Regions from separate parts of the Homo sapiens genome. Here region 2 is linked to region 1. The links come from fine-mapping of genetic effects on gene expression. A gene starts in region 1. The other region holds a variant in brackets. All regions are shown on one strand. Distances are between the middles of the regions. Region 1 holds the start of SHROOM4 (shroom family member 4). Region 2 has its middle 39 kb from the start of DGKK.

What was found. PIP is the estimated chance that this variant, and not a neighbour inherited with it, causes the effect.
Region 2: its variant is the best candidate, but not a certain one, in a credible set for the expression of SHROOM4 in tibial artery (GTEx, PIP 0.61).

What each region holds. Positions count from the first base shown.
Region 1 is chrX:50,812,378-50,816,770 of GRCh38, forward strand. It overlaps SHROOM4 (shroom family member 4), which reads right to left and starts at 1,817. Exons shown (of 9, transcript NM_020717.5): 1 at 1,525-1,817. The coding sequence starts at 1,641. RefSeq lists an enhancer at 864-1,365.
Region 2 is chrX:50,507,278-50,511,670 of GRCh38, forward strand. No RefSeq gene overlaps it. Among named protein-coding and RNA genes, the nearest start is that of DGKK, 39 kb to the left of the region's middle. The variant T/C (reference allele first, on the strand shown) is at 1,871.

The sequences.
Region 1 (4,393 bases):
GCCTCAGGAGGGGTTGTGACAGTGGATGACAAACGCATCTCAGGCTGGTTAAAGTACATGACAAGTATGGGGGAAAGGGTGCTGGATGAAGATCTGGGCTAGTTTGGGGAGGCTAATGATCAGAGGGGTCCCTGCCAGCCCCTCAAAATGTTGCCTCAGCATACCTCAGACTCCTCAATCTGATTGGTACACCCATGGCAACACTCCAGGGTTGCTAAGAGTGTGGGCCCCAAGGCCTGAAGGATCCCATACACTGGAAGTCAACCACAGGCTCCAATGCAAGGCGAATGCCGCACAGGTTATTGTGGGTGTGTGTTGCGGTGGACGTTTGCTGAACCCTCTGCTGAGATGTGACCAATGTTGAACCCCACCCCCCCGCAAAAAAAAAGTGATATTTGCTCCCTGCTGAAAAGACACATCTTTCTATCTCCAGCCTGAACCCACATCTACAACTTCAACTGCCATTTAAGCGGGTTGGAAGCGGGAGGGCTTTTCGGATTTGAGGATTTAAGAGAAACAACAAAAAAGTGGAATAAAGTTCGTAAAGTCCGTTCACTTGGCAATCTGGCACCTCAAGGTGAGTCGTCCCACAAGTCACTCTTCCTGGTAACAGCTCCAGCTGCCCCTACCCCTCGCCCTCACCCCTACGGGGGAGGCTCGCTTTGGGGGTTCTGGAGCACTCAGGAGAGCTCCTCTCTCCTGTCCTCAGCTGCAACTTGGCTTCCAGCAGATCACAGACTCCTAAAACAAACAAACCCTGGCGGCGGCGGCGGCGGCGGCAGTGGCGGCGGCGGCGGCGGCGGCGGCGGCAGCGGCAGCAGCAACAGCAGTAGCTCCAGCACAGCTGCGCTCCATGGCGCAAGTTTCCTCCACACTTCTCAACGTGCAGGAAATCTCGCCGGCGCTGGGGCAGGACTCTGGAGGGAGGGAGAGGCCGAGCCGAACCGGCGGCAACAACGCCCCAAGAGCTGAATGGATGTGTGCGCGTCCGGCCGTGGGAAGTGTGGCTGGCAAAAGCCACCAATGGCCTCATCTCCGTTCCCACACCAGCCCCTAGCCCTGCAACCTGCCTGGGAGGGACGGCCCGCCGGTCGATAGAGGGGACAACGCTGCCAAGAGAGCTGCCAAGCCGCGATGACTGTCCCTTCAGTCCTTCACTGTCCCGCAGGGACGCAGAGGCCTCCAAGGAGAAATCCCCAACAGCCTCCACTTCCTTCGGCCCAAACTGAGGGAAGTAGCCGCCCCGACGTGGGGCAGCAAGGGCTGCCCCAGCGCCCTCGCGAGTGTGTCTGCGCGCAAGGTTCTAGCCGGGGGCCAGTTGTGCTCCCAGCTCGTGTTCCAGCCACCCTTAGGGGATGTCTGCACCTGGACTGGTGGCAAGACCCCTCCGTGCCGCTCAGAGGGTCTTTCGCTCCCAGCCCTAAGTTTCAAAGTTGGCCTGAGGGCCCCGTCCAGCGGCAGCCTTCGCACCCGCTTGTCCATTCAAAGTTAGGCGCCGTTAGGACATCAGCCGCCAGTTCTTACCTTAGACACTGTGAGCGGCTCACAGTGTTCCAGACCCCCCTTAAGGGTGAAGCCCCAGGGTGCCCCCCCTTGCAGCTGCACAGGGACGTACTGGAAGGACCCAGGCCGGTTCTCCATCCTCGGCTGGGCTCAGGCGCCGCCGGGCTCCTTTTCCGAGGGGGCTACGTTGCCTCCGCCCCCAGCAGCTCCGCCACCATCGCCCTCCAGCTCTACGCCACCCCGCACCGCCCTGCTCCGCCTACTCTCCCGGCTGGAGACGCTCAGGCAGCGAGCGAGCGCAAGGAGGAAATGACACGGAGCTGGAGAAAGGGGGAGAGAGGGGGGAAAAGGAGAAGGGAAAAAAAGAAAAGAAAAGAAAGAAGGAGAGGCGGAGGGATAGCGCGTAATGGACAAGAAAACGGAGCAATGGGGAGGGGCAGTCACTGGGACCTCGCCTATAGGATCGCTGGGGAGTGGGAGCGAGGCGAGGCCTCACATCAATTGTTACATTGTTTCATTCAAGCAGGGCCCCTCTTTGGTCCTCCTCTTTACTGCCGGGTTCCCCGCCCCTCCAGCCAGCCCAGGCGAGGGGAGGTGAAAGTCGTTAGTGTGGACGGCCCGCGTGGCTGAGTGGGCTGAAACGCTGGTTTCCTGATTAGCGCGTTCATGTTTCTCTGACTGCCTTTTTCTTCTGAAGGTCCCGAGAACGGAGACCTGGGAGGGTTAAAAGGCTGCTAATTTGTGGACCTTGCCTAGAGGGGTGGAAAGCAAAGCCAGCAGGCCAGCGGACATAGTGAGGCTGTGTGTGTAGACTGCTCTGTGTGTACGCGCTAGGTGTGTGGGGTCATTATGAAACATTGCCCCAGAGCATAGTTTAAATAAAGAAGCACTTTGAGGATGCCCCCTGCTCGGGCTCCCCCGCACCCTGGCTCAGTGTTGGTGTCTATGGCTAGCACTGTGCTTGTGTATGTTCCAGTCATCTGGAGTTCCTGGCACGGCCTTGCACTTGCCCCACCGAGATGAGCAAGCCAGCAATCAGCAAACTTTATGACTAGCAGTATTGTCTCTAAACAAACCTACAGGAAAGAGCATCCATTGATAAGCTGGCCAATTAATAATGTTGTGCCTTTGGGAAGAATCAGCTTTTAGACTGGGTCCAGAACATCTCTGCACATCTGTTCAAGCTTGACCTTGTAGTTTCTGAGCTGGGCTTTTGTAATAGACCAAACAGCCACAATAATAGTCCTGAAAAGCGAATTTGTTACTGAATCTTGTGCTGATTTCTCTGCCTTCACTTGGACAGGTTATCTTCTCTCTTTGAGGTGTTTTCTCTGGAGCCACATGCGGGCAGTGAATTTTTAAAGGGCCTCGCACTAGCGGAGAAAGTGTTGACAACTCAGTTGTGACTCAACAGGATGTTCCCACTCTGTCTCGCCTGTTCAGTTTCTTCCCCTGTTCTTGTGCAGCTTCTTCTTCATGGCCAACAAACACACTGCGGCCCCTTCCTTCACAGCCAGCTTTCTGCGGTCAAGGTTTCCACTCTCTACTTCTACTTCCTCACCTGTCACTGCCTCTTCAACGCACAGCAGCCTGCGGTGTGCTGCAGCAGGCCACTGAAATGTCTCTCAAAGTCACCCCCCTCCATCAATCCTTTTTTCTTAGCACCCCCCTGGACTGTCTGCATATATGATGCTGCCCTGACTTTTCTTTAATAAAATGGCAATTTAGGTGTTTATAGCCTGCCTTTTTAAAGTCCTTAGAGATGATGCACATGGGAAACCATCCTCGATCTTTTAGGCCTACAAACACCGTCTTGATCATGTTTATTGTTTTATATTTTCCTTATTTGAAAGCAGAAAATTTGATAAAATGGCAACTCAACTTGTTGATTCTTACTTGTGTTAACCTATGTTATAACATTCATTTGCCCTGCCCCACCTTGAAACTCAGCATTTTTTTTCTTTTTCGGATAATATTTCTATGATTGTAACTTGGTAGAATCCAGCGTGTTTCAGTCCCAGCATATCTGTAAAGTTCAGTTCACAGGATATATAGTCATCACTCAAGGACTATTAGAATTATGTGTCTAGACTAGAGGAAAGACGTTTGGAAGCAGTAGACACACATCTGAGCCCTGGCCTTGTCACTAACTAGATGGGTGACCTTGGGCAAATCACTGAGCTAACTCTTTTCAGTCTCCTGTTCTTCCTCTGTAAACTTTAGCTAATAAGCCCTGACTTTCCTACCTCCCAGGACTGTTGAGAGACTAAGATGAAATAATACATATGAAAACACTTTGGTAAGGAAAAAGTAAAAATCCTCTCACAACCTTATTATGAAAGCAAGCACTGAGCTAGTCTTTAACTAACCTATTTTCATTCCAAGCCTTACTCTACAATGATGTCTTGTTGCACTCTTCAGTTTATCCTTTTCATCATTACAGCAGAACATAAATTACCTAGCCCCTTGTACAAACAGTGCATAAGTAGTAGATATTCTGAACATAAGGTGGCTAGATTATCTTGCTTCTTTATTGATAAAAATCAGTGCTGCTAGCAGGCATCTCATTCTTCTTTGGAAGTATACAGTTAGTGGTAGCATGACTGCATAGTGGAAAGGGTACAGGGTAGAACTTGAGATGCCTAGATTCTAAGCTAGTTCTGCCATTAATTCACTGTGGATATTAAGCATGTCACCCCCACTCTCTGTAAGTTGAAGGGGTTGAGCGACTTGATTTCTTAAGTTCCTCTACAGTTTACAAATTCTGTGACTACTTCCTGGCAAGTGCCTGAACGTAGTATATGTGCAAACAAAATCTTGATAGAGTTGAACCAAGTAAAAAGAAAGCAATGGAGAACATTCGAGGGGTATATTACTCTGTGTGTGTGTG
Region 2 (4,393 bases), 310 kb before region 1:
TTGAAAAAGAGGAGTAGCCTTTAAAAAATTTTAAGTCATAAGAATTTACCCTTCCACCTGTGAAGTAGTTACTATGCCATTTTACAGATGATAAAACTGGTATGCTGAAAAATTAAATAACTTTCCCATAGCTATGCAGCTAGTAATGAACTGAATTTGGATTTGAATCTAGGTTCCAGAGTACGCGTGCTTAATCATTATGTCATACCACCTCTCCAAGAATACAGGCAAAAAAGTCAGGCTTGAGGGAAAAAAAGATGACTGTAATTTTTGACATGTTAAGTTTGCAATAAATATGTGGTATCCAAGTGTTTATGTCCTGTAGGCAACTGGATATATGGATGGGGAGTTTAACAAAAGGATCTGAGCTTGATATTTAGGTCCGAGAGTTAATAATGATAGGATATAAATTGAGAAATTTAAAATTTGATGGTGAAACCTAGGGAACCTCAAAAGGTATCATATGGGCAGAGGAAAAGGAGCCCATAGTGTTGACTAACAATGAACACCAAAAGAATTAGGAAGAAAAGAAGAGTAAGGTAACAATCCAAAGAAACAGTTTCAAGAAGAAAGATGTACTCAACAGAATCAAATGCTGCAGGGATGTCAAATACGTTAAAGATATAAAATTATCATTTGGGATTATGGAACTTCTATTTCCAGTATGGTGATGTAGACATGTTTTTCCATATCCTGTTTACTAAATACAGCTAAAAGCCCTGGTAGTTATACATACAACAACAATAAGAAGACTCTGAAAGGTGTAGAAGAGAAAGCAGGCCTGCTAGAGACCTTGCGCCCTAAGGAATTAAATGGAGATGAGTCCCCTGGGTTTACTTTGGGCCTCATACATTCAAGACTGGGTACTAGAGAAGTCAGCAATCCAGAATCACCAACAGGTGCAAACACACAAAAGCCCTAGAACAGCCTGTTCTCGCTAGACAAAGGACCAGGAAAGGGTAAAAGTAACAAGACAGAAAACTCTGTAACCAAACACCCAGGAAAAACTGTGGCCCCACTTTCACCACTGTCATCAAAGACCAGTTGGGGAAGCTAGACTCCCACCTTGGCTAGGCTATTACAAGGCACCCCAATCCCACACCACCCCTGCCAGGGTGGTGTCAGAAAATGCTAAGAGTGAAACTGAGATTTTAATTTTCACCGGGAGGTAATGAGACCCTCCTTCCATCGTGTTAGTGGAAACCACATGAGGAACTTAGACTTTCAATCCACCTGTGGTAATGAGGGTGATATCAGAGGAAGTCGTGTGGAGGGTTGAGACGTTCAACAATGTTCCCCCTGAGTATCAACGAAGGCTTATGGAGAACCTGGGCTTTAATCCAAGCATGGCAGTAACGAAGCAGCATCCTCCCTTCCACACAAGAACAGAGTCAGAGGAGGCCTGCTAAACAAAAGATTTAAATAAGATACGAAGTCTCATAATAAAATATTTAAAATGTTCAGGTTTCAATAAAAAATAACTCATTATACCAAGAACCAGGATGATCTCCACTTGAATGACAAAAGACAATCAACAGATACCAAAGACAAGATGGCACAGATGTTAGAATTATCTAAAAAGAATTTTAAAGCAACTGTCATAAGTGTTTCAAAGAGCAATCACAAACATGCTTGAAAAAAAAATAGAAAGTCTTAGAAAAGAAATAGAAATTCTCAGCAAAAAAGGAGCTATAAAGAAGAACCAAATGGAAATTTTAGAACTGAAAAATACAATAACAAAATTCAAAAACAATGAATGGGCTCAATCGCCCATAATGGAGAAGACAGAGGAAATAATCAGTAAACTTGAAAATAGAACAATGGAAAATACCCAATGTAAGTAATAGGCTGAAAAAATAGCCTCAGGGAC[T/C]TATGCAACTATAATAAAAGATCTAACCCCCATGTAATTGGAGTTCTTGAAGAGGAGGTTAAAAAGGATGGGACTGAAAAAGTATTTGAAGAAAAATGGCTTAAATTTCTCCAAATTTGGCAAAAGACATAAGACTACAGATTCAAGATGCTAAGTGAATCCAAAACATAATGAAATAAATCCATGCTAAGACACATTACAGTCAAACTTTTGAAAACTAAAGACAAACAATCTTGAAAGCAGCCATAGAAAAATGATGCACGTCCTATAAAATGACAGCAAATTTCTCATAAAAAAACATACAGACTGGAAGGAAATGGTACAAGAGTTTTTCAGCAGCTGAAAGAAAATAACAGCCAAATGAGAATTCTATATCCAGTGAAAATATCCTTTAGATAGGATGGCAAAATCAAGATATTGTCAGAGGAAGGAAACTAAGAAAATTTGTGGCTAGCAGACCTATTTACTTTAAAAGAATGGCTATAGGAAGTTCTAAAAGCAAAAAAGGGGATTACAGAATAAATCTTGGAAGATTAGGAAGAAAAAAAACACAGAAAGAGCAAAAATATGAGTAAATACAACAGACTTTATGTTATGGAATGAATTATGTCCCCCTGAAATTCGTATGAAGTTCTAAACCCTGATACCTCAGAATGTGACTATATTTGGATATTGGGCCTTTAAAGAAGTAATTAGGGTAAAATGAGGTAATACGGCTTTGCCTCAATTCAGTATGAGTGATGTCCTTATAAGAAGAGGGGATTTGGACACAGATATGTGCTCACACAAAGGAAAGACCATGTGAAAAGATAGCAGGAAGGTGGCCATCCATAAGCCAAGCACAGAGGCCTCAGAAGAAATGAAACCTGCCAAAACCTTACTCTTGGACTTTTAGCCTCTAGAACTGTGAGAAAATAAATTTCTGTTTTTTAAGCCACCCAGTCTGTGGTATTTTATTATGGCAGCCCTAACAAACTAATACTTTCATTCTTGTAATTTTTATATTTGATGGTTGAAGCAAAAATAAAAACACTAAAGTTGTTCCCAATGTATAAAAAAATTTAGGCAATTAAATTATAAGTGGGGGAGTGATATGGTTTGGCTCTGTGTCCCTACACAAATTTCATGTCAAATTATAATTTCCCAGTGTTGCTGGAGGTGCCTGGTGGGAGGTGATTGAATCATGGGGGCGGACTTCCCCTTTGCTGTTCTTGTGATAGAGTTCTCAGGAGATCTGGTAGTTTGAAAGTGTGTAGCACCTCCTCCTTCTCTCCCTCTCTCTCCTGCCAGCCATGTGAAGATGTGTTTGCTTCCCGTTTGCCTTTGCCATGATTGTATGTTCTCTGAGGCCTCCCCAGAACGAGAAGCCTGTACAGTCTGCAGAACCATGAGCCAATTAAACCTCTTTTCTTCATAAATTACCCAGTCTCTGGTAGTTTTTTATATAGCAGTGTGAGAATGGACTAATGCAGGGAGAGCAAAGGGACATAAAGGGAGGTAAGGTTCTTACACTTATCTCTAAATGGAAAAATGTTGACACCAGTAGAATGTGATAAGTTATGTGTGTAAAGTGGAATACAAAAAAAAATTGCTAAAATGCTATACAAAGAGTTAAAATAAAAACTAAACTGAGCTAAAAATGTTCAAGTAACCTACAAGGAAGAAAACTAGAGAACTGAAAAACGGAACAACAGAAAAATAGATGTTAAAAATAAATTCATAGACTTAGGTCCTAACCTATCAATAATTACATTAAATACAAATGGTATAAATGCACAAATTGAAAGACAAAAATTGGCAGAGTTAATTTTTTAAAAACATGACTTAACTAAATGCTATCTATAAGAAATTCACTTTAATTATAATGATATAGGTAGGATGAACATAAAAGGATGGCAAAAGATATTCCATGCAAGTGTTAATCAAAAGAAAGCAGGAGTGGCTATTACATTATGTAATAGTCTTTCTTGGTCAATCCACCTAGAAGACATAGCAATCCTAAATGTTTTTGGACAAACCAACAGAGCTGGTTTGTAAAGTAAAATTGATAGAACTGAAAGGAGAAATAGACAAATATAGAATTATAGTTGGAGATTCAATACCCTGTCTTAACAATTGATGGAACAACTAGACAGAAGATCAGCAAGGATACAGAATAACTCAATAACACCATTGCTGTGATCGAATGTTTGTCTTCCTTCCAATTCATATGTTGAAACCTAACCCCACACTGATGATATTAAGAGGTTGGGCCTTTGGAAGTAATTAGGTCATAAGAACAAAGCCCTCAAGAATGGGATTAGTGGCTCAAGGAGGTTTGTTCATGCCTTTTGTCATGTACAGACACAGCTAGAAGGCATCATCCATGAGGCAGAAAGCTAGCCCTCACCAGACACCAAATATGCTGGTGCTTTGATCATGGAGTTTCCAGCCTTGTGAGCAAAAATTTCTGTTGTTTGTAAATTACCCAGTCTAACGTATTTTGTTATAGCAGCCTGAATTGACTAAGACAACCATCAACTA